Regions from separate parts of the Homo sapiens genome. Here region 1 is linked to region 2. Evidence: fine-mapped QTL for protein levels in blood plasma. A gene starts in region 2. The other region holds a variant in brackets. All regions are shown on one strand. Distances are from middle to middle.

Region 1 (15,510 bases), 35 kb before region 2:
GAACTTTAAAAACATTATATTAAGTGAAAAAAGCCAGATACAAAAGGTCTTACATTGCATGAATCCATTTATATGAAATGTTTAGAATAGACAAATTTATAGTGACAGTAGATTAGCAGTTGCCTGTGGCTAGGAAGGGGCTGGAGGAAAACAGATAATGGGAAATTCTAATGGGCTCAAGGTTTCTTTTTGAAGTGATGAAAATACTCTTAAATTGACTGTGGTAGTTGCAACAACTCTGTGAATACATCATTGAATTGTATGCTTTAAATGTGTGAATTGTACAGTATGTAAATTTTATCTCAGTAAAGCTGTTAACTCCCCCTCCAAAAAACACACAGAAAACAAAACAAAATTTAGTCATGAGCCCACTATTCAGGGAGAATTGCCTTTAGCGTTTTAGTGTATTTTGTGTGTAACACAAAATTAGAATCCTGATTTTTTATTTTGATTTATTTTTTCTTGTATTTAGCTATGTCATCAAATATTCCTCCAACACATGGCTTTTATTTATTTATTTAATTAATTTATTTTTTTGAGACAGAGTCTTGCTCTGTCGCCCAGGCTGAAGTACAGTGGTGCAATCTCAGCTCACTGAAAACTCTGCCTCCCAGGTTCAAGTGATTTTCCTGCCTCAGCCTCCCGAGTAGCTGGGATTACAGATGCCTGCCACCACGCCCAGCTAATTTTTGTATTTTTAGTAGAGACGGGGTTTCACCATGTTGGCCAGGCTGATCTCGAACTCCTGACCTCTGATGATCCACCCACCTCAGCCTCCCAAAGTGCTGGGATTACAGGCGTGAGCCACCACTCCCGGCCCCAACATATGGCTTTTAACTGGCTATAATACTTCAATACATCCTGTAAGTGTCACATAATGGAGTATATTGAACTGAGTCCTGACAGTGAACATTATTTAGGTTGTCTCTGATTTTTTTGTTATATGATGGGCATACTGTATGTTTCTTTTTTTTGTTTTTGAGATGGAGTTTTGCTCTTGCTGCCCAGGCTATAGTGCGATGGCGCAATCTCGGCTCATTGCAACCTCTGCCTCCAAGTTCAAGCAATTCTCCTGCCTCAGCCTCCCAAATAGCTGGGATTACAGGCGCGTGCCACCACACCCAGCTAATTTTTTGTATTTAGTAGAGATGGGGTTTCACCATGTTGGTCAGGTTGGTCTTGAACTCCTGACCTCAGGTGATCCACCCGCCTTGGCCCTCCAAAGTGTTGGGATTACAGGTGTGAGCCACTGCACCCAGCCAATATTGTATGTTTCTAAATGATTCTAGACTTAAGTTGATATTCCCCTATTCCCCTTAGAGTTTCTTGTGTCTTTTTTTTTTTAGATGGAGTCTTGCTCTGTCACCCAGGCTAGAGTGCAGTGGCGTGATTTTGGCTCACTGCAGGCTCTGCCTCCTGGGTTCAAGTGTTTCTCCTGTCTCAGCCTCCCGAGTAGCTGGGATTACAGGCATGCACCACCACACCTGGCTAATTTTTGTATTTTTAGTATGAGACGGGGTTTCACCATGTTGGCCTGGCTGGTCTCGAATTCCTGACGTCAGGTGATCTGCCTGCCTCAGCCTCCCAAAGTGCTGGGATTATAGGCGTGAGCCACCATGCCAGCCTCCCCCTTAGAGTTTCTAAAGGAGAAAATTTTTCTTTTTTCTACATTTTTTTTTTTTTGAGACAGAGTCTCACTGTGTCATGCAGGCTGGAATGCAGTGGCATGGTCATGGCTCACTGCAGCCTTGACCTATTAGGCTCAAGTGATCCTCCCACTCCCACCTCAGTCTCCCGAGTAGCTAGGACTATAGGTTTGTGCCACCACACCTGGCTAATTTTTGTAATTTTTTTGTAGAGATGGGGTTTCACCAAGTTGCCCAGGCTGGTCTTGAATTCCTGGGCTCAAGCAATCTGCCCGCCTCAGCCTCCCAAAGTGCTGAGACACAGGTGTGAGCCACCGTACCTGGCCAAGGAGAGAATTTCTAATGTTCCTTGTATGTATGCCATTCTAAATAATTTACTGAGACCAGATACGGTGGCTCACACCTGTAATCCCAACACTTTGGGAAGCTGAGGCAGGAGGATCATTTGAGGCCAGGAGTTTGAGACCGGCCTGGCCAACACAGAGACACCCTGTCTCTATAAAAAAATTTTTTTTAATTGGCTGGGCATTGATGGTACATGCCTGTAGTCTCAGCTACCTAGGAAGCTGAGGAAGGAAGACTGCTTGAGCCCAGGAGTTCAAGGCTGCAGTGAGCCATGATTGTACCACTGCACTCCAGTCTGGGCAATACAGCAAGATCCTGTCCCCAAAAAAATAAAAGGCTGGGCACAGTGGCTTACACCTGTAATCCCAGCACTTTGGGAGGCCAAGGTGGGAGAATCACTTGAGCCCAGGAGTTCAAGACCAGCCTGGACAACATAGTGAGTCCCTGTCTTTAAAAAAATAATAATAAAATAAAAAGTGTATCAACGTGGACAGTTAAAACTGAGAATTAGTATGAACTAGGATTGCATCAAAATCTTGACTCAGCGGGAGCTTCCTGACCAAGGGGAAGGATCCGAGAAGGCCTCCTTCAGATGAAACCAGCTATATAGGACAGCAAGTAAAGTCTATTCTGGGACTGAGTTGCTTCTGACTGCCCCCACCACCCACAACAACTTCCAACTCATTCTGCTAACTGACCCTGTTAAGAACCAAAAAAGATGAGTCACCAAGCCCACACCTCCTGGAAGAACTCTGTCAAATATTTAGGTTTTGGGTGAGGGTCTCGCCATCCTGACATAGACTGGGCTGAACAAAGAATCTATGACAGTGAAACAGAAGTTCATTTAGGACACATCAGACGATCTCATCCACTAGTTTTAGAAATCCCTTCATTCACTGATGATTCAAACTGGTTTGATAGCAGTGATAATGACCTTGTTAGTTGGGGTTTCAATTTAAAATACTTGGATTTGGCCTAGGAGTATAGTTTGATGAGTACAGTCTGTCACACTCAGATGAGGTCCCTGACAGGTGTCACATTTTGCGGGAGGGCGCTTATGTGAGGGAGTGGAGGGGCGTGAGCCCAGGCAAAGCCACCTGCCTGGTTTGGGAGGCACTTCCAGCTGTTCACCTTGAGCCTTCTGGCCATGTAATCATCTTCTCTTAAGTTTTTCAATAGGCAAAATGGAAAGACAATCACATGTAGAAGGTGTGTCCCGCATCCCTCTTCAGCTGCAAGCACCCTTATGCAGCTAGAAGCGTTCCTGTAACAGCCTCCCTTAGGCCTTCAGAAAAGAAACAATCAACTTTAAACTTACAAATGGGGCTGCTGTGTCCTCACAAGCTGGGGACATAGGTGGCGTTTTTCTTTTTTCCTGAATTGCAGGCTTTACAAATATAATATAGGGTTTAAATTCTGAGGTCCTCAGTTGTTTCAGTGCCTGAGAAAGAAAGTTCAGGAATATTATATACTTTTGAAGTGTTTTGTTGTGAAATAGACTTTTGAAAGCTCAATAATCGTGTGCTTCAATACCATAACCTCAACAGCAAAGGTCCTGGTTACATGGGTCCCATGACAATGGACTTCAACTGGGCAGACCAACTGCTCCTTTTCTCATCCTTCACTTTGACGTTGAACTCAGCGGGGCCCTGAAGTCACACTCACTGCCAACAGAAGGTTCCTAAGCCTCAGCTCAGAGACAGTTGCTGTCTCTCTTAGCTCTGACTCCTCCGGCTATAATTAACCTTCTCAGGCTCCTCTCCACCTTCCATTTCTGATGGGTGAGGAAGCAGGAGTCAGTGTGTATCTATTTAGTCAAATGTCATCAATCGGACTACATTATTACAAACTTTGTGCTATTACATCTCCTCTTGGTATTCAAAGAAGAAAAGGTTTGCAAAGCAAATGAGATTACTGAACAGATCATTTAAAACTGTAGACTGTAGAAACTGCACTCTTGGGCCAGGTGCGGTGGCTCACACCTGTAATCCCAGCACTTTGGGAGGCCGAGCCGGGTGGATCACGAGGTCAGGAGATCAAGACCATCCTGGCTAACATGGTGAAACCCCGTCTCTACTAAAAATACAAAAAATTAGCCAGGCGTGGTGGCGGGCACCTGTAGTCCCAGCTACTCGGGAGGCTGAGGCAAGAGAATGGCGTGAACCCGGGAGGCGGAGCTTGCGGTGAACCAAGATCGCACCACTGCACTCCAGCCTGGGTGACAGAGCAAGAATCTGTCTCAAAAAAAAAGAAAAAGAAATTGTACTCTTGATTAATGCATTTTATCTAGAAGTAAGGGCTCCACTTGGAAACACTAGTATTAAACTGCTATATGCATTATCTGCACCCTTGATCAATAAAGTGATCAATAAAATCACTTTTCAAAGAAAATTTTGAAACTCAGACTTTTAATTTTGATCACTAACTCCCTGTAAGTCCAAATGAGTGTTTTCCTTTATAGGCATAACGTGCTTTTTGGAATATATTTCAAGCAAACTTCTTTAAAATAAAGCCTACAGTTTATAGCATAAAATCAGAGATCTGTTTCTATAGAGGGGAAAAAAAATCCCCAGATTGAGTTCAAAGCTTGGAAGTTTTTCTAAAAGACAAGGTTAAAAAGATGGTTAAGCCCCTGCTGAGTCCACAGCATGCTGGGTGTGCAGGAGTGGAAATGTTTTTGAAGCACTTCCCAGGGCCGTGTCTCCCTCCCTCTTTTTCCCCTTTAAACTGCTCTCCTCACTGCCTCCCTGAGTGGTTCTCTAAGCCACTGACTCCACCTGCCCTGGTTGGGGAGGGGGAGGCCTGGCACCGAGAGCTCAGCCCCAGTTTCACCTGGGTACTGACATCTAATTCTCTGGCACATTGCAATGGCCAGTCAGCGCCACCAACTATTGCATGATCTGTTCCACGCAGGAGTTACTAGCCTGGGTCTGTGGGCCACCAGAGTGTCCACAAGCTCCCTACAATTAATGCAGCATTTGTGGATAGAGGGGCATGTTTTGGGGTACAAGGCTTTCATTTGATTCTCAAAGGAAGACCCAAAGAAATTGAACAGCCAGTGTTCTAGACTAAAAATTCCTTAGACTGAGGTTAAGTGTTGTGTAAAATGTACAATCCCCTAGTTATAAATTCCGTTAACCAGAAATGGCCAGCAGGCCCAGCAACTCACTTCTGGCTCCACATCCACCAAACAAACTTTGTTTTTGGCCATAACAGCCTGAATGGCCTCCAGGCTGGTTCCATACAGATTTTCCTTATATTCACCATGTTCCAGGAACCTAAAACACCACCAAAGGGGAAAAGGCCTTTAGTTCCTCAGCTTTCCTAAATTAGCAAAGCAAAGGGGACCTCCCAACATGACTTCTCTCCCGCTTCCCCCATCCTTTCCGGGAGTCCTCCCAGGAGCTCTAGTGGAATACAGATACAAAAACACACAACTGCCTGGAGGGCCAACTGGCCCATCAAGCAACGTACTTGTTGTGATGTAAGTCGGCCTCAAATGCTTGCTTAGACACAAAGTGATATTCCACTCCTTCCTTCTCATGGCTCTTTCGGGGCCTGGTGGTATCTTTTAAAGAAAGAAGGAAAGCTGGGCAAAGAGATGTCACATCACAGCACGCAGGGACAGCAGCAGGCTTAGGCACTCATTTGGGAGTTCACTGCTGCTGTGTCTAAACCAGGCACTTCCACCTCATTGCATGTCCCTGTATCAGGCACTGTGCCTTTCCAGGCAGGCGTATCACTGATTCACACAACAACTCTTTGATGTAGGCAAAAGGAGGCTTTTCCTTTTGCAGCTGAGAAAACTGAGGCACGGAGAGGTTCAGCACTGTGCACAGTGACCCACAACCAGTAGAGAGCACAGCCAGAATCGGTCTCTCTGCCAAATGCCCAGCTTATACCCTTAACCACTCTGCTAACTGACTCCCTGATGCTGTGTTTTTTTTTTGTTTGTTTTGTTTTGTTTTTTGTTTTGAGACGGAGTTTTGCTCGTTCCCCAGGCTACAGCGCAATGGCATGATTTCGGCTCACTGCAACCTCTGCCTTCTCGGTTCAAGCGATTCTCCTGCCTCAGCCTCCCGAGTAGCTGGAATTACAGGCATGTACCACCACACCCGGCTAATTTTGTATTTTTAGTAGAGATGGGGTTTCTCCATGTTGGTCAGGCTGGTCTCGAACTCCCGACCTCAGGTGATCCACCCGCCTCAGCCTCCCAAAGTGCTGGGATTACAGACATGAGCCACCGCGCCCAGCATATGCTGTGGCTTTTAAAGAATCACTTAAGGGACCCCTAGTCCTAACTTTTAATTCTTCATTGTTTTTTATTTTTTGAGAGCAAAGGAGCCACACATACACTTGACCCTGATGTATGCTTTTAATTCTTTAGTCAATTAGTTCTCATCTCCAGAAAAAGGAGACAGGAAGACAGACCGTCCCTATATAGATCGGATGTGTTTCAGCAAGGCTGGCTCTCAAACAAAAATGTTGAAACACATGGTGTTTTCTCATTGATTTCCATAACAGAATTGGGATGCACACTTCTGAGGAAAATCAGGTCTTCTGCAGAACAAGGGCACACACAAAGCCACACACACAGTATTTTCCAAAAGATAAAATGGGATCTTGAGGCACTGTGTCTTCTGGCCCATGGGAACCACCCAGGGTATGCCCTGTGTTCTTTCTGTGGCATCTTAGTCCAACCTCCGGTAGAGGTGCTAGGGTCACTTTTCCAACCATGTCATCCCCCTGCTTAAAAACTTGTATTTATCTATGGGTTACATTCTAAACACCCTAGCTGAGTATCTGAGACCTGCGTGATCTGCCCAACCTCTCAGCTCCATTTTCCAGCACACCATCCACACTAATCTCCCCGGTCCCCAACACTGCTCCGTCCCTTTGCACATGTTGTTTCCTCTGTAAAGAGAACTATTCCTTTCTCTTCTGCCTGGAAAACTCCTATTTACTCTTCAGAACCCAGCATAAAAGTCACTGCCTCTGGGAAGGCTTCCCTGACTCCCCCAGTTTCTAAAACAAAGGAGGAAAGTCTCCTATCTGTGGAGTGCCTAGAAGCAGGTGGGCCTGACCATCCAGGTACCTCTTCTCCAGGGGGTGGATCCAAGGGGTTCTGAACGATCAGTGTGTGAGCAACCTCTGCATGTCCTGTTTCAGTCCACCTGAAACTTGGAAGGCCGTGGCTCCCTGAAGCCCTCCAGGTCCATCACAGGTGTGCTGCCAGGATGGCCTCCCCAGGGCCACCACCTCCCCCACATCCCTGCCACTTCAGATTGGGCTGTGGAAGACAGCTCTGACAACCCACAGACTAGACGCTGGGCCCAGGGGCCCAGGGAGAGCGGTGTGATCAAAGCAAGGCTTCATGGTTGCTCTGCCCCAGAACACTCTGAGGAGGCCCCATTAGGGCCCCCACAGCACCCCTCTCAGTAGCCACCAGGCATTCACACTGCATCCCTCTGAGGCCAGGGGGACTGAGAGTGAGTCCCAGAAAGAAAAGGGGCAGCCAAGGGCACGAAGTGGGAGGCGGCAGGTGAGAGGCCATTGTGCATCCTCGTTAAGAACATGACTGGGGCAGGCTGCCTGGGTATGAATCCTGGCTCCACCACTTACCAACTGTGTGACATTGGACAAGTTACTTAACCTCTCTGACCCTCACTGTCTTCCTCTGCCACACAAGATGATAACAATCTCTCTTCTCAGGGGTACTGGGAGGGCTGACGCAGGGCACTACACATAAAAGCTCTTGGTGCATTACCTGGCACCTTCATTCTCCTCCTCCTCATCCTCCTTATCACATTCAGAACCAGGATCCTCTGCCCACTGGAGCTTGACATCCCAGGGTGCCCCTGGCAGCAGTAAGCCCCAGGAATTGGCAGGGGAGGCATCACCCAGGAATGTACCCAGCTACCCTGACAAACTGGAATCTGGCTATAAGGGAGTGCCGAGAAATACCACTCACAGGGCTCTGTGGCTTCTCTGACCTGCCCTCTCATCCAAGCAGAGGGCAGCGGCCACAGGAGTCAAAATTCACTGTGATGAGGAGGAATGCCCCCTACTGTGGGGGCCCCGTGGTGTCAGGTTGAGGCTGCCACTTTGCCTACAATGTGCTCTGGACTCATCTCCCACCCCAGGCAGGAACCAAGCAAGTGGTCCTCCAACTTCTGCCTCAGAGGGTCTCAGAGGACCACTGGGAGTGGATTTCTTCCCATCATGCCTTTGTCCCACAATTTGCCAATAGCAGGCAGTGCCTGGTGATCCTTTAAACCCAAAGTAAGGATTTGGATGGATCTGGGGAGTTAAGTCTCCATGGAATATTTGTGTGTGTGCAGACAAACACACACTCCCACATGGGCCCTCTTACGTGGAACAGCGACGCCAAAGTGCTGTGGGTTCTCAGCCACCACCTTTTGCTTCAGCTCGTGCAGTCGGGCTCCCAGAGACCCTGGGAAACAAGAAGAAGGCTGACCAGGGTCCCTGCTGAGCTCCCTCCCCACCTGCTCCAGGGAGGAAACCAGATCACTTCCTGGAAACCCAGGATGGCACCTACCGATCAGAACCACCAGGCGGGGCCGCTCTCCGGGCTGGTGTTGGTACCTGGCCACCTCTTCGTAAGTCAGCAGCTCCGGAGACTCAGCTCCGGAGGACATCTTTCCTTCCTGCGAGCCACCCAGTCTCTCCCTACAGCCCAGCCGGAAGCTCCTCCGAAGACCAGCTTGGGAGGAGGGGCAGAGGGACACCATGGCATTTGTCCCAGTTGTCCCAGGATCTCCCAGTAGAGACTTTTCCCACCTGGCCAGACCTGGAGATGGGACTGAGTCCCACTGACTTCTCCCAACCTCCTCCTGCTACTGGAAGAGGTTGTTCAGGAAATACAATAATAAGATGAAAGGGTGACCCCTGCATTCACAAACTAGGGCTTAAGGTCACTGTTTTACTTGGCATGTGACTGACCTTGGACAAGTCCCTTCATCTCTCTGAGCCTCAATTTCCTTACCTGTGAAATGAAGATATGAATCTACAACTACTATGTGTGGTCCTAGATTAGATCCTGGACCAAGGGAAAATGTCATAAAGGACATGATGGGGACAATTGTTAACATTTAAATAACAGCATATAACAGATTTGGATACATTTTAAATTCTCAGAATTTGATCACTGCCCTGAGAAAGTCCTTGGCCTTAGGAAATACATGCTGAGAGATTTAGGGTTAAAGGGACACGATGTCTACAACTAAGTCTCATATGACTCAGGAAAAAAAAATTCAGAGATGTGGGAAAGGAAATTGAGCAAACATGGCAAAGGAGCAACTGGTGAATCTGGGTGTGGAGTATATGAGAGTTCTTTGTATAATTCTTACACCTTTTCAGTAAGTTTGAAATTACTTCAGGACAAAAGTTAAGGGGCTGGGTGCAGTGGCTCATGCCTGTATCCCAGCACTTTGGTAGGCCAAGGCAGGCAGATCACTTGATCTCAGGAGTTCAAGACCAGCTGGGCAACATGGTGAAACCCTGTCTCTACAAAAAATACAAAAATTAGCCAGGTATAGTGGCATGCACCTGTAGTCCCAGCTACTAGGGAGGCTGAGAGGGAAGAATCGCTTGAGCCTGGGAGGCTGAGGCTGCAGCGATTTGTGATCACACCACTGCACTCCAGTGTGGGTAACAGAGCAAGACCATATCTCAAAAAATAAGTTTAAAAAAAGTTTAAAAACTTTTTAGAAAGGAGGATTGCTTGAAGCCAGGAGCTTGAAACCAGCTGGGCAACATAGCGAGACCCCATCTCTACAAAAAAAA[T/A]TTTTTTAATCAGCTGGGCATGGTGTCAGATGCCTGCAGTCCCAGCTACTCAGGAGGCTGAGGTGGGAGGATTGTTTGAGCCTAGGACATTGAGGCTGCTGCAAGCTGCAATGTCACACACTACTGCACTCCAGCGTGAGAGACAGGGCAAAACCCTGTCTCTAAAAAATAACCAAAAAACAAAAAAAACTTTTTGCCTATCTCTAAGACCTTTGAAAAAACTGACCAAAACAAGTGAAAAGGGGCTCTGGAGAGCCGCAAACACCCCTCACTGCGTGGTAGTGGTGTTAATATTGAATAAACTCCAATTGCAATGATGGTGATAATAGAATTGGTATTAATGTAGGGGTGTGTGTGCCTTTCCCGCCAGGGCAGTGTGCCCCACAGCTGGGTAAAAGCTGGGTGGGGGCCCAATGCCTGGGCAGGCTCAGCTCCTGCTTGGGTTGAGAGAACTGAGGAGAGATGGGGGTCCCATAGGCTCCACTGCTCCAGAAGGACTCCTGGGGCTCAGATCACCCTGCTTTGACCTCTCCCTAACTCTGGGGCCTTGGGTGGGGCAGGTCGTGCATGTGGGTGTCAGGGGGAGCTACTTACCCACATAGTGCCCTTTGAGGTAGCCCTCACAGTCACAGGTCTCTGGGAAGCAAACAGAGGGAGGGAAGCCAGTGAGTCCCACCAGACACATCCGGCCCAGGGCACCCAGCCCCTGGATGGCCAGGCAGGAAGAGCCCCCTGGGATGGTGTCTCGTGGGGAGCTCAGGGGAAATCCCATGTCCTGGACACCCCAAGAAAGCAAGGTCCTCTGTTTTGCTCAGTTCTCCATGCTTAGGCCCCTAACAGCCTTTCCAGGCCCTGAGGGGGATTCTAGGCCAGCAGGCCTCCCCAGTCCCTGAGTGTGAGCAGTGTGAATAGGGAGGGATTCACTCCAGCCTGCCCTGCCCTCCCACCCCTTGTCTCCTATCCAGCCCCATCACAGCGTAGCCGAGTCCTGGAAAGGCTGGGCCGCACGTGTCAGGAGGGCAGGGAGGTGCCCCTAAGGCCTTGAACCCTGTCCCCACCAGCTTTGCCTGCCTCAAGGAACAGCCCAGTCCAGCTGGCAGAGCAGGAAGAGGTGCGCAGACAGTGGGAGGGGCACAGCTGCCCAGATAGGGAAAGAACACGAGCCCCTCAGGCCCCAGACGTTCCACGGAAAAGGGGCCACGCCTGTGGACAGCGGATAGATACTGGGCCTACCTTTGTCACAAGGCTGATCATCTGCGGTTTGCACAAAAGACAGATGGAACAGCATTAGTGGAGGGAAGCGGGGACCCTGCGGCTGAGGGCAGCCACGGCCCGAGTGCCTGAGGAGCCCGCCATCTGGCCTCTTTCCCTTTCCTCCAACGAACCTGTGATCTGAGCTGTGGTACGTTATTAAACCCCAAGACCTGCTCTAATTAGTCTTCTTGTATGTGTCTCATTAGCACCAGAGAAAGCCAGCTCATCAGTGGCACAGCAGCCTCAAGGCCACTGCCCTTCTAACCTGACAGCAAGTCTGGAAAAGTGGCCATTGTCAGGGGCCCAGGGAGCAGCTTACTCTAGGATCCTGCGGTGGGAATAGGACCCACTCTCTCTTTTCTGGGGTTGGAGTCTGGCCCTGGAAAACGCAGATGCCTGAGGATGGAGCGGGGTGGAGCAGAGCTGCAGGCCATCTGTGTTCTGGTCACCTGGCACCTGCTCAGGCCGCTCACTCGGTTACAAGTCTGCCCTCTAGTACCAGAGAGACCATGCTCTGGAAAAGCTTCCTCTCTGCACGGGGCCCTACCCTGGGGCTCTGATCACAGGCCTTCAGAAAATGTGACCCCAACTCTGCTCACTTAACCTTGTGACCCTACATATTCCCAGCTTAGAAAAGATAGCTGACTCTACCGACTTCACAGGGTTCCAAGAAGTAGGTGGACATGTTTTCTAAAGTGTAAAGTGCTACACGGTGTAGAGTTGCCAGATAAAATGCAGGACACCCACTTAAACTTGAATTTCAAATAAACAACAAGTAACTTCTTAGTATAAGTATGCCTCAAATATTGCACAGGACATACTTATACTATAATAAAAACTACATAAAAACATACTTATACTAGAAACCAATCTGTCATCTATCTGAAATTCAAGCTTCAACTGGGCATCCTTTATTTGTATTTGCCCAGTCTGGCAATCTGGCAGCCCTACCAGAGGCACCAGGTCACACATGGCCTTCTCCATTCCCTTCCAACGCCAGTGCTTCTTCCATTTTCAAGGTCAGAGAGCCCTTGGGAATCTAACGAAAGCTGTGGATCCTCACACGCACATGCACACGCGTGTGAACACACACACATCTGCACATTTTGGGAAAGCTGTTAACATACCCCCCAGCATCATCTATGGACTCCAAATATACAAGCTCCTCTCCAGGGACTAGCTGCCCCCCACCTCCTACTTCCCACCCCCTCCTTCCTCTGGAGTCCATGAGCTCAGACAAGACCCCTGATGCCCCCTCCAGCCCACTGCCTACTTCTTCCCAGCCTGAATCCTCCCTCGCCCTAACCCCGGGCCCTCCCTGGAGTGCCATCCCTGACAATCTACTCACAGGGGGGCTTCCTGAGGCTCTGGGGGCTCGGCAGGGTGCCCGCGGCTCTCCGGTAGCTTAGTCGTCTGCAGGGACACAAGGGGATGGGCGGGCCCGTGAGCTGGGCCAGATAACCACTTGAAAGGAACCTTCTGGAAAACTTGGGAAGCCAAGGCCTGGATCCCACAGGTGGGCACACACTGGACACTCTGAGGGCCTCCTGCTTAGCACTAAGTTCCAACGAAGGGAACACTTTCACAGGGCTCACTGGCTCACCAGGAGGAAGAAACTGAGTCTCTTGCTCCAGAAATAGCTCATCCAGCTCAAGATGGCCACACAGGATCCAGCCCGGTGTACAATCCTCAGCTGGTCATTACTCTCCTATGGCCAATTTCTAAGGAGAGGCAGCCCCTTCTCTACTCCCCAGCCTCCCCATCTCTGAGGGAGCTGAGAAATAGCAGAATGACTCCCAGGAGAGGCCGAGGACAGAAGTGACCCTAATTTAACACCCTCCCCTCAGCGGAAGGCTCAGCCCGGGCAGACTGTCCAATGTGGCCATGAGTGGAGAGGTGGGGCTCTCAGAGGTCACTAGATTTCCACATTTAAATGCAGCTGAAGGGCCGGGCGTGGTGGCTCACACCTGTAATCCCAGTACTTTAGGAGGCCGAGGCGGGAGGATCACTTGAGGTCAGGAGTTCGAGACCAGCCTGGCCAACACGGTGAAACCCCGTCTCTACTAAAAAATACAAAAAGTAGCTGGGCATGGTGGTGCACGTCTGTAATCCCAGCTACTCGGGAGGCTGAGGCAGGAGAATCCAGGAGAATCACTTGAACCCGGGAGGTGGAGGTTGCAGTGAGCTGAGATAGCACCACTACACTCCAGCCTGGGCAAGAGTGAAACCATGTCTCAAAAAAAAAAAAAAAATGCAGCTGAAGAGCTGTCCCCCACATCCTCTGGTAAGATGTTGCCAAGACCTGTGAACCCTAAAATGGAGATGGGTCTGGGGTTCCCGAGGAGACAGAGCTTCGTTCTCAGACTTCGGCATCTCAGAATCGCCTGGAACATTTGTTAGAATGTGAGTTTCTGGGCAGGACCCATGGATCTGCATTTCTAACAAGTCCCCAGGTGACGCTGAAGCCCCCAGCCAGGGGGCCACACCTTGAGGGCCACTGAAATGGGTGAACCCCAAGGTCCTGTCCTTACCACAGTCCACACACCAAAAGATGTGAGGGCTACAACCCACAGTGGAAGTCACAACTGCCACCCTCTGACCCAAGACTGACCTTCCTGGAAGTCTAAAGAAATAATTTGAAACATGAGGAACAGTCTATGTGCAAAGTAAGTAAGTACTGCAGCCTTATAAAAGTGAAGAATTGGGAACAACCTAATCGAAGTGCAGCCACAGGAAAGCAGTGAAATCACTTAGCTAGTTCCTCTGAGAAGCCTTCCCTGCATTCCTGGATGAGGGCGCAGCCTCCTAATATGAACTCACACAGCACCATGTCCTCCTCCCTTGCACCCATCACGTTTATATAAACTGTGTGTTTGAAGAGCGTCTGGCTTTTCCACTGAACTATAAGCTCCTCCAGGGCAGAAACCCTGGATTCACAGCAGCCCGCAAGATGCCAGCACAAGGCCAGCTCAATTCATCCTAAATACCTGCCGCCTAGGAATGAATGGCACAGCTCCTGATGAGTTAGTATACAGCCACTAAAATCACACTACAAAAACGATGCTATAATATGGAAAATACTCACGCCAAAAATGTTTAAAAAAAAAAAAAGCAAGACCCCAAATTCTGTATGCAACACTCACATAAAAAGCACAGTAAGGAAACAAACTATGCAGTTTAGATAAGGGTGAGACGTGGGGAATTTCCTTTCATAGTCCTCCTCTTCAGTTTTTTTCTGTTTTTTTGTTTTGTTTTGTTTTGTTTTTTGAGTCAGGGTCTCACTCTTACTCAGGCTGGAGTGCAGTGGTGTGATAACAGCTCACTGAAGCCTTGACCTTTTTGGGCTCAACTGATCCTCCCACCCCAGCCTCCCGAGTAGCTGGGACTACAGGTGTGTGCAACCATGCCCAGCTAATTTTTTATTTTTTGTAGAGACAAGGTCTTACTATGTTGCCTAGGCTGGTCTTGAACTCCTGGGCCCAAGGGAACCTTCTGCCTCGGCTTCCCAAAGTGCTGGGATTACAGGCGTGAGTCATCACCATGCCCAGCCTCTCTTCTGTATTTTTATATTTTGTTTATCAGCATTCTCTGAGCATGCATTATAAAATATACATTAACTTAGGCTGGATCCAGTGGCTCATGCCTGTAATCCTAGCACTTTGGGAGGTCAAGGCAGGTGGATCACTTGAGGCCAGGAGTTTGAGACCAGCCTGGCCAAACCCTGTCTCTACTAAAAATACAAAAATTAGCCAGGCATGGTGGTGCACGCCTGTAATCTCAGCTACTCAGGAGGCTGAGGCGGGAGAATTGCTTGAACCCGGGAGGTGGAGGTTGCAGTGAGCTAAGATTCGCCACTGCACTCCAGCCTGGGTGACAGAGGGAGACTCTGTCTCAAAAAAAAAAAAAATACACACACACACACACACACACACACACACACACATTAACTTAATAACATAAATTTCCATAGATTCCTTTAAATCTCAAATAACCATCATCACTAGTTATGGGAAAAGACCAAACACAAGTGCAACTGGTACTTACCTTGGGGGAACAATGCTCAGCAGGCCCCTCTGGCTGTGAGGGCAGAGACTTGGGGGTCTGCCATGTACCTGTGCCTCTGCCACTCTGGAACCAGCCCTTCACAACATACCCCAGACCCACCTCTCCTGGAACCCCTTGGAGGGGATGAGGCCGGCTCGAAGGTTGGTGTCCCCGACTCGCTTGGCCTGCCACCACGTGGGGTCGTCCTGGCTCACCACCTCCAGGACCTGCCTGCGCTGGAAGGGCAGGCCCGCCTCCTGGCAAGGGATGGCCCGGTCCTCCCGAGGGTTGTAGTGGAAGAGGGCGCGCATGAACACCTGCACAAGGAGGGCTCTGGTGAGGCGGCCCTTCCCCAAGTGAGCACAGACAGGTCATTGTCACATCAAAGGCCACATGACAACGACCATCCACACTT
Region 2 (15,510 bases):
CAGAAAGGATTTTTCACTAATATCTTTAAGGTACCCGAGGGTAGGGATGGGGAAGGTGCTGCCAGACAAGAGCCACTTTTAATTCAAGTTCAAAGCTTGAAGTTTCCTGGGACACCTAAATGACAGAAAGCTGGGTGGAAGTCCATGGTGGCCTGGTTTGTACAGCCTTTTGGGGTCCCAGCCTAATGTGACCAAAAATATGCCAGATTCCATTCCCTGCCCCCAGAGGGCCCTAGACTCCTAGTTCATCCTCTTCGCTGCTGCTTTGGAATCAGTAAATGCCCACAGGGAAAACAAGCACATACACTGAGCTTATCTTTCTGGCTTCCTGTCTACTTGCATGCAGACTTATGCCTGGGAACCCCCATGCTCTTTTTAGCTTTTCACTGCTTTTTTTTTTTTTTTAAGACAGTCTCGCTCTGTCACCCAGGCTGGAGTGCAGTGACATGCTCACGGCTGACTGCAGCCTCGACCCCTCAGGCTCAAGTGATCCTCCCACCTCAGCCTCCCCAGTATACTTTCTTTTTTCTTAATAAACTTTATATTTTGGAATAATTTTAGATTTACAGAAAAGTTGCAAAGATAGTACAGAGAGTTCCTGAACACCCTTTCCCCTGTTTTCTCTAATGTTAGCATCTTACATAATCATGATACATTTGTCAAAACTAAGACATGAACATTGGAATGTTATTATTAAGGAAATTCCAGACTTTATTAATCTTTCACTAGTTTTTCCACTAATATCCTTTCTCTGTTCTGGGATCCAGTCCAAGATAACACATTGCAGTTAGCCTTCAAAGTTTCTGAGAAGATTTGAAATTTACCTATCAGTAAACGTGGGCATTTACTGATTGAGCTCCTGAGGCATTACCAGTCTCCCATTACTGCCCTCCTCCATCATTTTCCCTGTCATTCCCCGAAGTAATTGGTTAACATAAAAAATTTGAAAGGGGCCGGGTGCGGTGGCTCACACCTGTAATCCCAGCACTTTGGGAGACCGAAGCAGGCAGATCATTTGAGGTCAGGAGTTTGAGACCAGCTTGGCCAACATGGTGAAACCCTGTCTCTACTAAAAATACCAGAAAATGAGCTGGGCATGGTGGCACGTGCCTGTAATTCCAGCTACTCAGGAGGCTGAGGCACGAGAATCGCTTGGACCCAGGAGGTGGAGGTTGCAGTGAGCCGAGATCGCGCCTGCTGTCTCAAAAAAAAAAAAAAAAAAAAAAAAAAATTGAAAGGGAGTTTTCAGATTTGTTTGATGGAGAAAGTTGAAAAATCGAGTTTGCAACCAGCTAGGGTAGGGAAGCTGCGAGGAGACTAGAGGATGAATGTATGACGGAAAACAAAAAGCATGGTGGTGGTCTACACTGTGCTACAGCAACTAGCAAACTGCAAGATCTCCGTGGCTAAACACAGAAAAGTCTATCTCTTGCTCATTCCAAGTCCGCCGCACGCTTGGTGGCTGTCCAGGGCAGCTGTCTTCCAAGTGGTAGCTCAGGAATCCAAATCTTCCTGTCTTGTGGCTCATTTGTCTTTGCCGGGGACACGTCTTCCCCACTCCTGATGTTTCCTTCCATGAGCAGAGAACCCCACTGGCACAAAACTCTTAGTCTCTCTCCACGCCTCTCTCTACGCCTCTCCACACCTCTCTCTACGCCTCTCCATGCCTCTCCACGCCTCTCTCCACGCCTCTCCACGCCTCTCTCCACGCCTCTCCACGCCTCTCTCTACGCCTCTCCACGCCTCTCCACGCCTCTCTCCACGCCTCTCCACGCCTCTCCACGCCTCTCCCCGCCTCTCTCCACGCCTCTCCACGCCTCTCTCTACGCCTCTCCACCCCTCTCTCCACGCCTCTCCACGCCTCTCTCCACGCCTCTCCACGCCTCTCTCCACGCCTCTCCACGCCTCTCTCCACGCCTCTCCACGCCTCTCCACGCCTCTCTCCACGCCTCTCCACGCCTCTCTCCACGCCTCTCCCCGCCTCTCTCCACGCCTCTCCACGCCTCTCTCCACGCCTCTCCACGCCTCTCTCCACGCCTCTCTCCACGCCTCTCCACGCCTCTCTCCACGCCTCTCCACGCCTCTCTCCACGCCTCTCCACGCCTCTCTCCACGCCTCTCCACGCCTCTCTCCACGCCTCTCCACGCCTCTCTCTACACCTCTCCACGCCTTTCTCCATGCCTCTGCTGATTTGATTGATGAATGTTGAAGGAGGAACAAGGCGTGTGTAACCCGGCTCTCTTCTTCCTTTTCTCTGGTGAGCTGGCCCACCTGCAAAAAGTGTGTGTTCTAAACTGATACACCACACCTCACCCTGAGTATTACGAGGATGGCCCAGCTCCACTGAGGAAAGAAGGACGCAGTTTTACCTGATTCTGGGGTTCAGCATTAGGTTCTGCCCACTGTCCTGTTTCCAAAACCGTGTTACTATGCCTGCATCAAGCTTATCCACCCGCGGCCCACGGGCTGCATGCAGCCAGGATGGCTTTAAATGAAGCCCCAAACAAACTCGTAAGCTTTCTTAAAACATTATGAGATTATTTTTTTAACTCATCAGCTATCACTGGTGTTACTGTATTTTATGTGTGGTCCAAGACAATTCTTCTTCTTGGCCCAGGGAAGCCAAAAGATGGAACACCCTGACCTACATAAACAATAAACATAACTTACACAAAAGTGCACTTATTTGTTCCACAGTTATTCATCATCTAAGACAGCAGTTCTCAACCCAGGGTATTTTTGCCTCTCAGTGGGATGTTTGACAATGCCTGGAGGCTTTTTTTTTTTTTTTTTTTTTGAGACAGAGTCTTGCTCTGTCACCCAGGCTGGAGTGCAGTGGCGTGATCTCAGCTGACTGCAAGCTCCACCTCCCGGGTTCACGCCATTCTCCTGCCTCAGCCTCCCGAGTAGCTGGGACTACAGGTGCCCGCCACCATGCCCAGCTAATTTTTTTGTATTTTATTTTTTTAGAGACGGGGTTTCACCGTGTTAGCCAGGATGGTCTCGATCTCCTGACCTTGTGATCCGCCCACCCCGGCCTCCCAAAGTGCTGGGATTACAGGCGTGAGCCACTGCGCCCGGCCTTTTTTTTTTTTTTTTTTTTTTTGAGACAAGGTCTCACTCCCATCACCCAGGCTGGCGTGCAGTGATGGGATCTCGACTCACTACAGCCTCGACCTCCCATGCTCAGGTGATTCTGTCACCTCAGCCTGTGTGTAGCTGGGACCACAGGTGCACACTGCCATGCTTGGCTAATTTTCTGTATTTTTTGCAGAGACGGGGTTTTGTCATGTTGCCCAGGCTGGTCTCAAACTCCTGGGCTCAAGTGATCCACTCACCTTGGCCTCCCAAAGTGCTGGGATTATAAGCATGAGCCACCTCACCCAGCCTGGAGACATTTTTGATTATCACAACTGGGAAGGGACTACTGGCATCTAGGGGGTACAGCTGGAGATGCTGCTAAACATCCTATAATTCACAGGACAGTCTCCCACAACAAAGAATTATCTAACTTAAAATGTCAACAGTACTGAGGTTGGGGAAACCTTGATCTAAGAGGAGCAAGTGACCCTCTTGGAGCAGCTGAAGTGATTTAGTCCAAGTCCAAACCGAGAGGAATTGGACCAGGGTGGCCATCGAAGACCAAGCAGCTCAGTCCCCTCATCCCTGCCACTGTACCTCTTGGGCACACAGAGGCCTTCCTGAGGATGTGATGAGGCTGTCACGAGCCCAGTGACCTGTCCAGGAGCCCTTGTGCCTCATTGCCTCTCCCAGGTGCAGTGATGGTGGGGCACCTCCCCATGCTTCTGGTGGGAAGCAGGACAAAAATATCCTCTCTTCTCAGATCCCCAGCCCACCACGGAGGTCTGTCTGTTGGCCCCATCTACCCCAGAGTGTGGCCTAAGGTGGAACTAGGTGCGAGGCTCATGCCAGCACCTCACTTTCACCCTTCTCCCCAGCCCTTGCTCCACTTCCCAGTCTGGTGAATCTGTTTCTAATGGAGTTCTTGAGCCAGCCTCCTGGGCTAGGTGTGGGGCTGGGAAATGGAGGGGAAGGACCTTCAAATATGCAGGAAGAGGGTAGGGATCCACTCAACATGCTCTTTATATAAATAAACATTTAATAACACCTCGCTTACTCTCCTAAAATGACAATCATAAATAATATGCCTTCACAAGCACTTACTTCTTTAAAATCACACTATAGTGCCTGAGCTATACTAGGGAGAAAAAATAAAAGGAAAGCAATTTATAACCAAATAACACATATTTCAATCTGTCAGTGCTCAGGTCCCATGACACTAGAAAGCATAATGAAGTGTCAGATGCTCGTCCTTGCATATAATAAATAAGTCTGAATTTAAGAAATGTAGAGGATCAGAAATTATTCTGTGTAAGGACAAAAATAAATAAATAGAAGAGCAAAGATATGCTATCAAATGCTAGAATAAGTATTACTTTAAGGCCGGGCATGGTGGCTCGTGCCTGTAATCCCAGCACTTTGGGAGGCCGACGTGGGAGGATCGCATGAAGCCAGGAGTTTGAGAAAAGCCTGACAACATAACAAGACCCTGTCTCTACTAAAAATAAAAAATTAGCCAGGCAACAGTGGTGCACGCCTGTAGTGCCAGCTACTTGGGAGGCTGAGGTGGGAGGATCACTTCAGCCTGGGAGTTTGAGGCTGCAGTGAGCTGTGATGGCGCCACTGCACTCCAGTTTGGGCAACAAGAGTGAGACCTGTCTCAAAAATAAGTAAATAAACAAATACTTTTTTTTCTTTTTTTAGATAGAATTTCACTCTTGTTGCCTAGGCTGGAGTGCAATGGTGTGATCTCAGCTCACCACAACCTCCACCTTCTGGGTTCAAGCGATTCTCCTGCCTCAGCCTCCCTGAGTAGCTGGGATTACAGGCATACACCACCATGCCTGGCTAATTTTATATTTTTAGTAGAGACTGGGTTTCTCCATGTTGGTCAGGCTGGTCTCAAACTCCCGACTTCAGGTGATCCACCCGCCTCAGCCTCCCAAAGTGCTGGGATGACAGGCGTGAGCCACCATGCTGGGCCATAAATATTTTTTAATCTGTGTTTTTTTAAAACTGCAAAAACAGATCACCTTTTGTAGTCTGTACATGTAAAAGAGAGTCAGGGGCTGAGATCATGGTAACAGTTTTCCCCACCGTGAACAGCTGGCCCTGCCCACTAAATGGCAGCAGTGCTTCGCAGTCATTGTGAAATTAAAACACTTCTCCCCACGTTACTAGACTCACACACACACAATCTTCCCTCCCAGAACCACTGAGTTAATGCTTCAGATATTAACCTGACAAGTCAGTAAAATTCCAACTGAACATTTGGAAGGATATATGCCAAAATATTAATGGTGCTTTTCTAAAGCAGAAGGGGAATTACAAGAAGCACTCCCTTTTTTCTTTCTTTCCTTTTTACGTTCTGTATTGTGTAAAATTTTGCTTACAACCTGTATGAACTTTGCAACCAAACCAAAAAAAAAGTCATTTTTGAAGCCAGTGTGTCAGAGCTCCCAGTAGTGTACATGTTTGTTTTGGTCCTTTCAAGGAGGATTCAAGTCTGCGATGGAGAAACCACCAATTCACTTTTTCAAATGCCAAAACAACTCCGCAGGCGTGGAGGAGACCTATCTTGCAGCGCTGTAGGCCCAAGGCACCAGGGAATCCGGTCCAGCTCAGCCCTACAGCTTTGCTCAGCCCCGTCTGCACCGCCGCCCCGTGGCCAAGGGCAGTACTGCGTCCTCCAAAAGGCAAGGGCGGAGGAGGGGCCAGGGGCCTTGCCCCAGGGGCAAGCTTCTTTCTGTCCCACTGACCACATGGCAGTCTGGTGAAGTTTATGGACCCCTCTCTCAGTATAATGGCGGGTAAATATATAAATAAAATATATATGCTGGAAAGAAAACTAATACTGGTGAGATGATTCTTAAAACTCTTTATAAATGTGTAATATAATAATAGCCGTTTCATTATTGTAAATAACCAGCTCTAGGGGCAGGTCTAGGAACTCATTGTTTTCCAAGCAGTGAGGGGTATACACGACGTTTCGAGATATCCACAACTTGATGTGCCAGTGTCTGTGATTGTAATTGGTAACAAAGTTGCAGGTACTGCTAACAGTACACTCTGAATAAGAGGAAAAGCTAAATATTAGAAGTTGATGAAAGTCAATATGTAACTTTTTCCCATGCGAATTCGACTTACAGACCCCTTAGGGCGCACGGACCACAGGTTAAGGCCCCCTTGAAGGGGCACGAGTTTAGGAGAAACTCTGGTGTGGGTTTTCAGTCCTGGAAGGTGAGCCCTGGGGTAGGCACGCGTGGGCGCTCAGAAAAGGGAAGGCAGAGGCGCCTCCCCGGCTGGGCCTGCGGAGGGATGACCCACACGCCCCTCCCCTCGCTTCCTTGGCCTGGTTTCACGCGACTAGAGAAAGTTAAAGACCCGTGTGACTGAAGAGGAGCTCACAGTTCCCAGCGTCTGCTCCCACGGTGTCCAGCGCCCAGAATGCGGCTTCTGGTCCTGCTATGGGGTTGCCTGCTGCTCCCAGGTGAGATGGGGAGAGGGTCTCGGGAGGGATGTGGGGCTCACCCTTGTGGTCTGCAGGGAAAGGACCTCTTGACTGACTGATAGCCCCACCCCACCTATCCTCAGCCTCCTCAGCCCTAGGGGAGCGGGGCGGGCTGGGGGTGGGGGGAGGTGGGGGTGGCGCCGGGGCCGCACTTGCTGTTTCTGGAACCTAGAGCCAGGTTTTCTCCAGACCTGTGGGTTTCCCCTCATGGCAATGTGGCTGTGAGAGTTGCTTTGCCTCTCTAATCTTAATTTTTCTACCCTGTGCCAAGCCTGGAGGCGGACAAGACACCCCATCTGGTTGCCCTGTTAAACTCAGCAAATATTTGTTGAATTTCGGCTATGCCTCTCCCCACAACCCTGAAAGATGAAGAATTATCACGTTTCATCAATTCTTTTGCTTTCTTTTTCTTTACCTTCTAACACTTAAAATCAGGATAAATCCTACAACTGATGTCAGTTGTTCAGTTGGCAATAGTGAGACCCCATCTCTACAAACAAACAAACAAACAAACAAACAAAATTAGCCAGGCATGGTGGTGCACACTTGTAGTCCTAGCTAGTGGGAGGCTAAGGTGGGAGGATCGCTTGAGCCCCAGAGGTCAAGGCTACAGTGAGCCATGAGCACCATTGCCCTCCAGCCTGGGCAACAGAGTGAGATCCTGTCTAAAAACAAAACAAAACCAGGCACGGTGGCTCACGCCTGTAATCCAAGCTCTTTGGGAGGCTGAGGCGGACGGATCACAAGGTCAGGAGATCAAGACCATCCTGGCTAACACGGTGAAACCCCGTCTCTACTAAAAATACAAAAAATTAGCCGGGCATGGCAGCACGTGGCTGTAGTCCCAGGTACTCAGGAGGCTGAGGCAGGAGAATCACCTGAACCCGGGAGGCAGAAGTTTCAGTGAGCAGACATCGGGCCACTGCACTCCAGCCTGGGCGGCAAAGTGAGACTCCATCTCAAAAACAAACAAACAAACAAACAAAACAAAACAAAACACTCAGAAACCCTGCTGGCTATCTGGCTGTCAGATTCTATCTGAATCTAGAACGCCACCCCTGCACCCCAATTCCTCAATGGGCCAGGGTTAGGGAAACAGCAACAGCCCTGCCCCAAGTTCCCCCAGCGTGGGAGGTTAGTAATGGCTCTTCCAAGGCTGTCCCCAGAAGGGATGACTGAGAAAAGCCTTCCTTCTTCCTCCTAAAATGGAAGCTCTGGCCTTGACCTTGGTACATGGAGCCTGGTTTTTCCAACCTCCACTCCTGCTCTGATTTTAGGTTATGAAGCCCTGGAGGGCCCAGAGGAAATCAGCGGGTTCGAAGGGGACACTGTGTCCCTGCAGTGCACCTACAGGGAAGAGCTGAGGGACCACCGGAAGTACTGGTGCAGGAAGGGTGGGATCCTCTTCTCTCGCTGCTCTGGCACCATCTATGCAGAAGAAGAAGGCCAGGAGACAATGAAGGGCAGGGTGTCCATCCGTGACAGCCGCCAGGAGCTCTCGCTCATTGTGACCCTGTGGAACCTCACCCTGCAAGACGCTGGGGAGTACTGGTGTGGGGTCGAAAAACGGGGCCCCGATGAGTCTTTACTGATCTCTCTGTTCGTCTTTCCAGGTAACAGATATCTCTCCTTCCCCAGGCTGGGGACAGGAGCTGCAGAGGGAAGAGGGAGGGGTGGTGGGGCATAATCCTGGTACCAACATTATGGGCACTGAGTCCTCAGGGAGATCATGCAGGTCAAGCACCGAGCAAGGCTTGGGGCACAGAAGGAGCCGCCTGAGTCTTGGCCATTGTCTCACTCTTGCTGCCCGAGGTCACACCAGTAGTAGATGTCAGAGCAGGACCGGACCCAGATCTGTCCAGGGCTGGGCTCGGCGCCTTTCCTTTCTGCCCAGGTGTGCTGGAGGGAGATTTCCATAGGCTGGGTACAAGATAGACATATCAGGGGATAAAGAAGACTCCTCGCCTGGTGTCAGAGATATTCCTGAGGCCTCCCGAGGCTGGGCCAACCATTGCTGCATTCCAGACCCAGCCCACAGCATCACCCTGGACATGCTGGCCTCGCCCTGCTTGTGCCCTCAACTCTCCCCTCCTGGCCTCCACCTCCCCAGATATTGAAGTCCAGCCACAGGTGCTAGAGTGCCTGGGAACCAGCCTCTGGGTAGGATGCCTGAAGGAGGGATCGTTAAATGCAGGGACACTAGGGGGCCGGGGCTGGAGCTATGGGGCCTGGGTAGGGGATAAAGCACCTCTCTGGGAGCCCAGAACCCCAAGTGGACCTGCTGAGCTAAGGAGAAAGAAGCCAGAGAGGGCCCAGGGGAGTGGGAGCCTTGGTCTGCTGGCCAGTGTGGGCGAGGTACATCTTTGTATCCCCATTTCACGGATGAGGGACTGAGGCTCCAAGAGACTAAGTGATTTGCCCAAGATCTCACAGCAGGAAGTGATGGAACTGGGATTCAAACACAAGTCGTTTCCAGCTTTGATGTCTGCTTTATTCCTCTCCTAGCCCCATAGCTGGGACCTATCCCAATCCCAGGCCCATCCCTACCACCATAGCCCCTATTTTTTTTTTATTCCTTTATCCATGGATCTTTAATTTGAGGAAATAAAGTTAAACTTGCCAAATAGCAGCAGCATCGAACCACATTGAATCTGTTCTTCATTATTTACAAGATTCTCTTATCTCTTCCAATTCTTATCAGTGTTCACATGTCATTTCTACCAGTTATGATCAAGTTCGCTTGTGTTTTAGGTTTACCCTCATTTGTAATTCTTTATTTGTGTATGACATGTGTATTGCTATATTATCGTCCTATATCGGACTCTATTGGCCTCTCTCTGATGGCAGTTGGGATGTTGAAAATGAAGAAGACTGACGACAGTGATGTGCTGGTAAATGTTTAACAGGCTGGGGATGCTGTCATTTTGTGGTGTTTTCCAATTTCTGTGGTGTCCATTTCTGTGGTCCAATTCCCATGGCCAATTTCCAGCCATCGACAGTTTAACACGATCTCACCAACTCCTGAAAAGTTAACAGTGAGCTCTTGTGAGTCAGTGCGAGCCATCTCCAGCACACCATTGAGTATGGTGAACCATGAGAAGAATTTCTAAGAAAGTCAGAAAAAGACAAATGTAGCCACTATCATTTCTTTTCTTTTTATTTATTTATTTTTATTCATTCATTCATTCATTCATTCATTCATTTTTCTGAGATGGGGTCTCACTCTGTCATCCAGACGGGAGTGCAGTGACACAATCTTGGCTCATTACAACCTCTGCCTCCCAGGCTCAAGTAATCCTCCTACCTCAGCCTCCAGAGTAGCTGGGACCACAGGCACAAGTCACTATGCCTGGCTACATTTTGGTTTTTTGTTTTTTTTTTAAGATGTGGTTTCGCCATATTGGCCTGTCTGGTCTCAAACTTCTGGACTCAAGCCATCTGCCTGCCTCAGCCTCTCAAAGTGCTGAGATTACTGGCAGAAGCCACTGTGCCCAGCCAGCCTACTATCATTTTCTTTTATTCATCTTTGCCTGAAGGCCCTAGGCAATGAAATATGCAAGATTAAGAAGTATAAGTCCCGGCATGGTGGCTCACGCCTGTAATCCCAGCACTTTGGGAGGTCAAGGCGGGTGGATCACGAGGTCAGGAGTTCAAGACCAGCCTGGCCAAAATGGTGAAACCCCGTCTCTACTAAAAATATAAAAATTAGCCGGGCATAGTGGCAGGTGCCTGTAATCCCAGCTACTCAGGAGGCTGAGGCAGAGAATTGCTTCAACCCGGGAGGCGGAGGTTGCAGTGAGCCAAGATCGTGCCACTGCACTCCAGCCTGGTCAACAGAGCCAGACTCAGTCTCAAAAAAAAAAAAAAAAAAAAAAAGAAGAAGAAGTATAAATGTTGGAAAGGAAAAGATAAATACTCTGTATTTGCAAAAGATTTGATCATCTACTTAGAAAAATCCAAGAATAAACTGACCTAGTGTTACAGATTGAGTATCCCTAATCCAAAAATGCAAAATACTCCAAAGTCCGAAACTTTTTGTGTGCCAGCATCACACACACAAAGGAAATGCTCACTGGGGCATTTTGGATTTCAGATTCCTGGATTAGGGATGCTGAATCGGCAGATATAATGCAAATATTCTGAAATCTGAAACACTTCTGTTCCCAAGCATTTTTGGATAGGGGATACTCAATCTGTAGAAGAGAAAGTGGTGGAGAAAGAGGGAGAGTCCAGGATGGCACACAGTCAGCAAGGACTGGGGAAGTGACAGATGGACTTGGGGAAGTGGGGACCGGAGTAGCTCCTGGGGAGTTGGTTGCATCAGGCTTCTGCCCACTGTGCTGGGCACAGAGGACAGGAATTTTTTTTTTTTTTTTTTTTTTTTTTGAGACGGAGTCTCGCTCTGTCGCCCAGGCTGGAGTGCAGTGGCGCGATCTCGGCTAATTTTTTGTATTTTTAGTAGAGACAGGGTTTCACGTGTTAGCCAGGATGGTCTCGATCTCCTGACCTTGTGAGCTGCCTGCCTTGGCCTCCCAAGAGGATAGGCATCTTGCCTTTAAGGAGTCTCAGCCTAGCAGGGAGACCCAGTACACAAGAAATTGCAGTGTAAGTGAGCATTAGCGCCACTGGAGGCACGCACAGGGGACTGTGAGTGCACAGAGGAAAAAGAGATTCGCTGCTTCCAGGGAAGACATTACAGAGGAGTTGACCTTGAGCTTGTGCTGAAGGACAGAAAGAAGTGCTTTAGGCAGAGATGGAAAGGAAAGGCATCGCACACAGAGGAACAGCATGTCCAAGGCACGGAGGTGGGCAGGAGGCTGGTTTAGTCGGGAATAGAGGATGACTCTATGGCTGGAGCACCGAACAGAGAAAGAGGCGAAGCTGACAAGGTGGTTCAAAGCCTCAAAGCCTGAGTTTTGTTCTTTGCTTTTTTTTTTTTTTAGAGACGAAGTTTTGCTGTTGTTGCCCAGGCTGGAGTGCAGTGGCGCAATCTTGGCTCACTGCAATCACCGCAACCTCTCCCTCCCGGGTTCAAGCAATTCTCCTGCCTCAGCCTCCCAAGTAGCTGGGATTACAGGCATGCTCCACCATACCCAGCTAATTTTGTATTTTTAGTAGAGAGGGGGTTTCACCGTGTTGGCCAGGCTGGTCTCGAACTCCTGACCTCACGTGATCCACCAGCCTTGGCCTCCCAAAATGCTGAGATTACAAGTGTGAGCCACCACACCCGGCCTGAAGCCTGAGTTTAAGAGGCCTCGAAAGGCATACTAAAAAGTTTGAACTTTGGCTTTTAGGCAATGGAGAGCCAGTGACTGTTCTAAGGCAGAGAGGGATGGGATCCAACACAGACTTTTGAGACAAAACTGGAGTAGTGTGAAGGGTGGCAGGGAAGAAGCAGGCTGAGAGGCAGGTGGGTTTGAGGCTCTGAGCTAGGCGCGAGGCCAGGGGGCTGCAGGAGTAGAAGACCAGGGATCTGCTGGAACCCGCCACGTGGCTCCTGGTTGGCCGAGGCGAAAGATGGCAGTGCTCTGTGCTGAGGTGGGGGGTAGGAAAACTGCCAGCTGCTCCCAAGGAAGGAAAAGGGGTTCAGAGCGGTGCCACCCCTGAGAGCAGCCTTTCCCTTTCCTCTAGGACCCTGCTGTCCTCCCTCCCCTTCTCCCACCTTCCAGCCTCTGGCTACAACACGCCTGCAGCCCAAGGCAAAAGCTCAGCAAACCCAGCCCCCAGGATTGAGTGAGTGAATGGCAATTCCGCCCCTTCCCTTGCCACCCTTCTTACAGAAGCAGCCAGTGAGTGCCTGCCTGGTACCAGACACAATAGTTTATGGCCACCTAGGTGTCCCCACAAGCCTGGGAGCTGGGTTGTCCAGCTGTGGAAGTGGAGGCTCAGCAGGGTTAGGTCACTTGCTCAGGGTCACACAAGAAGTGCCAGATCCCAGAAGTGGTCACAGCCTGACCCCAAAGCTCATATTCTGTCTGCGCCATCCAGAGTCTCGGGGGCAAGCCAGAAAGGCCAGGCCTTGGGCCCTGACCTCTGGACTCATCCTGCCACCCTGCCCTTCCTGGTCTCATGGCTGCAGAAGGAAGTCAAGGCCTTACTGAGGCACGGGTGGTTGGGGAGGGGGCACATGGTGGTGAGGGGAGGACCTGCCCTTCTGGTGAGGAAGGAGGTGACAATTGACTGGGACTGTAGGGGGAGGGCAGGAAGGTGTCCACTGAATGGTCACTGGAAAGGGTCATGGAAGCGGGGAAGGGGAGTGCTTATACCTCCTCACAGAGGCAACAAGCTGTGGGCACAGAAAGAGACTGAACATCATGCACAGCTGTGGGGTGTGCCTGATCTACGGTCTCCTTCCTCAAAGTGGCTTCATCTAGATCTGTTTGCTTACTGGGGTATCCTTTAGCTGGGGATGTTCCGAGAAACGGGTCCCAGGGAGGCTAGGGTTCAGGGGTCCAGGGTCAGAAGTCAGGGATGCTGGGATGCAAGGGTCAGGAAGGATGCTGAGGCATTGCTTTTGGACTTGTAGCTTCTCCTGGGCTCTACCCGGCAGCCACCACAGCCAAGCAGGGGAAGACAGGGGCTGAGGCCCCTCCATTGCCAGGGACTTCCCAGTACGGGCACGAAAGGACTTCTCAGTACACAGGAACCTCTCCTCACCCAGCGACCTCTCCTCCTGCAGGGAGCTCCCGCCCCCCCATGCAGCTGGACTCCACCTCAGCAGAGGACACCAGTCCAGCTCTCAGCAGTGGCAGCTCTAAGCCCAGGTGAGCCCCAGGTGACCAACATCCCCTTTCAAGCCATCACTAAACCATAAGGTGCCTTTGAGAAAATAGGAACTCAACACTCTTTCCTCTAAGCGGACGCATCCTCTTGTCATGGCCACAGCCTGCAGCACAGAGAGTCCCTCACAGGGGCCCTTGAGCAGTGGACAGCTTGTACTATAGGAGCCAGCAGCTCTGCTGCCTGTCCAGTGTGAAGGGTCCACCAGGATCCCAGTCCTGACCTCTCTCCCTGCCCCAGCCTCAGGGACGGCCACCCCAGTTCTGGGGCTTTTGCCTGTATACTTTGCACTAAGCCCTGTGCCAAACATGAAAACTCAGAGTCCAAAAGAAAACAATTTTTTGCCTTACAACTGGAGTCCCAGCCTGAAGGATTGGTTCTTGGGGGTTGTAAATGCACTTGGCTACCGACATCCAGGCAGCTGCTGGCAGGTTCAGGCCCTGCTGAAAGTGAATCCTGGGTTGGCAATGGGGGCGGGGATCCGTTCCACACCTGACAGGGCTGATGGGACATCGTGGTCCCTAGTGCCCTCTGATCTCCTTGGGAGAGAGAAAGGACATGGCTTGACTCACAGTAAGAATGCCAGGATGCCCCACATGCCAGTGACACCAGCCCAGATACAGGCCACCGGGAACTTCCCCACACACCACTGCATGACCTAACGAGTCGCTCATTGCTTCAGGTGTCAGTTTCTCCAGTGTGAAATTGATCCACTCCTACCTAGTTATACAGGGGTTGTGGAATTTAACAGCTAACATTGACGTGGTGCCTGGCATGTGTGTGGCACTGAACTATGCGCTTTACACATCCTCACCCATTTGATCCTCACCACAGCCATTTTACAGAGGAGGAAATTGACACCCTGGGAGGTTTAGTCACTTATCCAAGGTATAGAAAGGTGGTGGAGCTAGAGTTTGAACCTAGACAGCCTGGCTCCGGGGTCTGCGCTAATTACATAATGTTTGTCAAGAGCCAGTAGCACTAAATACCACCCCCCCGCACCACCACCCCCCACAAGTCTCTGCTGCATTGAATTGGATTCCACACTAGGGATTGGCTTTCTCAGCCTGTGCCTGGGACCCCCAAAGGACATAGACTCTGGCTTATCTGGTAACAGCCACTAGGCTCCTTGCGTCTCGTCTCCAGGGTGTCCATCCCGATGGTCCGCATACTGGCCCCAGTCCTGGTGCTGCTGAGCCTTCTGTCAGCCGCAGGCCTGATCGCCTTCTGCAGCCACCTGCTCCTGTGGAGAAAGGAAGGTGAGCAAAGGTGGGCGGCAGGAAGGCGGGAGGCTCACTGGGCCAGGGACCTCACTGAGACCTGCAGCTCCCCATCCAGCCCTGGAAAGACCCTGTGGGTCTCAGCGTGTCTGTCTGAGATATGAGCATCAGGAGCTGTGGCCTCCCTTCTGAAGGAGCCACGAGGTAGTCAACATTAGGAAAGTAATTCACAAGGGGAAATGGGAGAATGAAGGGTTCTCAGCTTCTTCCTGCCTGTCTAAACTGATCAAGCACTTCTCTACCTATTGATCCCAGGGAATTCATTGCCAGCTCCTTGTGTGGGAACCAACTGCCAGGGGCAGTGCAGGACCAAGCACTTGAATTTGAGCAGGACAGACATTGTAACCCCACTCCTGCCACTGGGTCTCTAGAGCTGCTCAGCCCCTTCCATAGGCTGGGGCTCAAATCCCAGCTCTGCCACTTTTTAGCTGTGTGACGTCAGGCAAGTCACCTAACTGCCCTAAGCCTCATTTACCTCAAATCACAGATATACATCAAACAGAAATAGAATACAAGCCACAAATGTAATTTAAAACTTTTGAATAGCCACATGAAAAAAAGTAAAAAGAAATGAGTGCACTTAAGTGTATTTTATTTTATTTTAATTACTTATTTTTTAGACATAGGGTCTAACTCTGTTGCCCAGGCTGGAGTGCAGTGGTGTGATCATGGCTCACTGCAGCCTTGAACTCCATGGCTCAAGCGATCCTCCTGCCTCAGCCTCCCGAGTAACTAGGACTACAGGCATGAGCCACTACGCCCAATCTAGTGAAGTTAATTTTAATAATGTACTTTATTTAACCCAATATATCCCAAACATTATCATTTTGATATGGAATCAATATGAAAATATCAATG

Alleles and levels. Alleles are on the strand shown, and positions count from the first base shown. The strength of an association depends on the size of the effect and on how common the allele is.
For the plasma level of the protein whose gene starts at base 6,488 in region 2, A is the low allele of the variant in region 1 and T is the other (moderate association).

Evidence for each region. PIP is the posterior inclusion probability: the model's chance that the variant is causal. Protein levels are from antibody-based Olink assays in UK Biobank. Linkage for the fine-mapping came from a reference panel and not from the study's own genotypes, which makes the PIPs less certain.
Region 1: its variant is fine-mapped to the plasma level of the CD300LG protein (UK Biobank, PIP above 0.99).

Annotation. Positions count from the first base shown.
Region 1 is chr17:43,805,647-43,821,156 of GRCh38, forward strand. It overlaps MPP3 (MAGUK p55 scaffold protein 3), which reads right to left. Exons shown (of 20, transcript NM_001932.6): 11 at 15,216-15,412; 12 at 12,400-12,464; 13 at 11,031-11,051; 14 at 10,392-10,433; 15 at 8,551-8,715; 16 at 8,365-8,445; 17 at 5,466-5,559; 18 at 5,161-5,269; 19 at 3,310-3,432. Among named protein-coding and RNA genes, the nearest start is that of MPP3, 20 kb to the right of the region's middle. The variant T/A (reference allele first, on the strand shown) is at 9,798.
Region 2 is chr17:43,840,689-43,856,198 of GRCh38, forward strand. It overlaps CD300LG (CD300 molecule like family member g), which reads left to right and starts at 6,488. Exons shown (of 7, transcript NM_145273.4): 1 at 6,488-6,571; 2 at 7,870-8,205; 3 at 12,224-12,325; 4 at 13,119-13,356; 5 at 14,519-14,631. The coding sequence starts at 6,529. LOC107984979 (a long non-coding RNA gene) reads left to right here. Exons shown (of 3, transcript XR_001753057.2): 3 at 5,576-5,787. LOC107985077 (a long non-coding RNA gene) reads right to left here and starts at 13,902. Exons shown (of 2, transcript XR_001752896.2): 1 at 13,723-13,902; 2 at 9,062-9,613.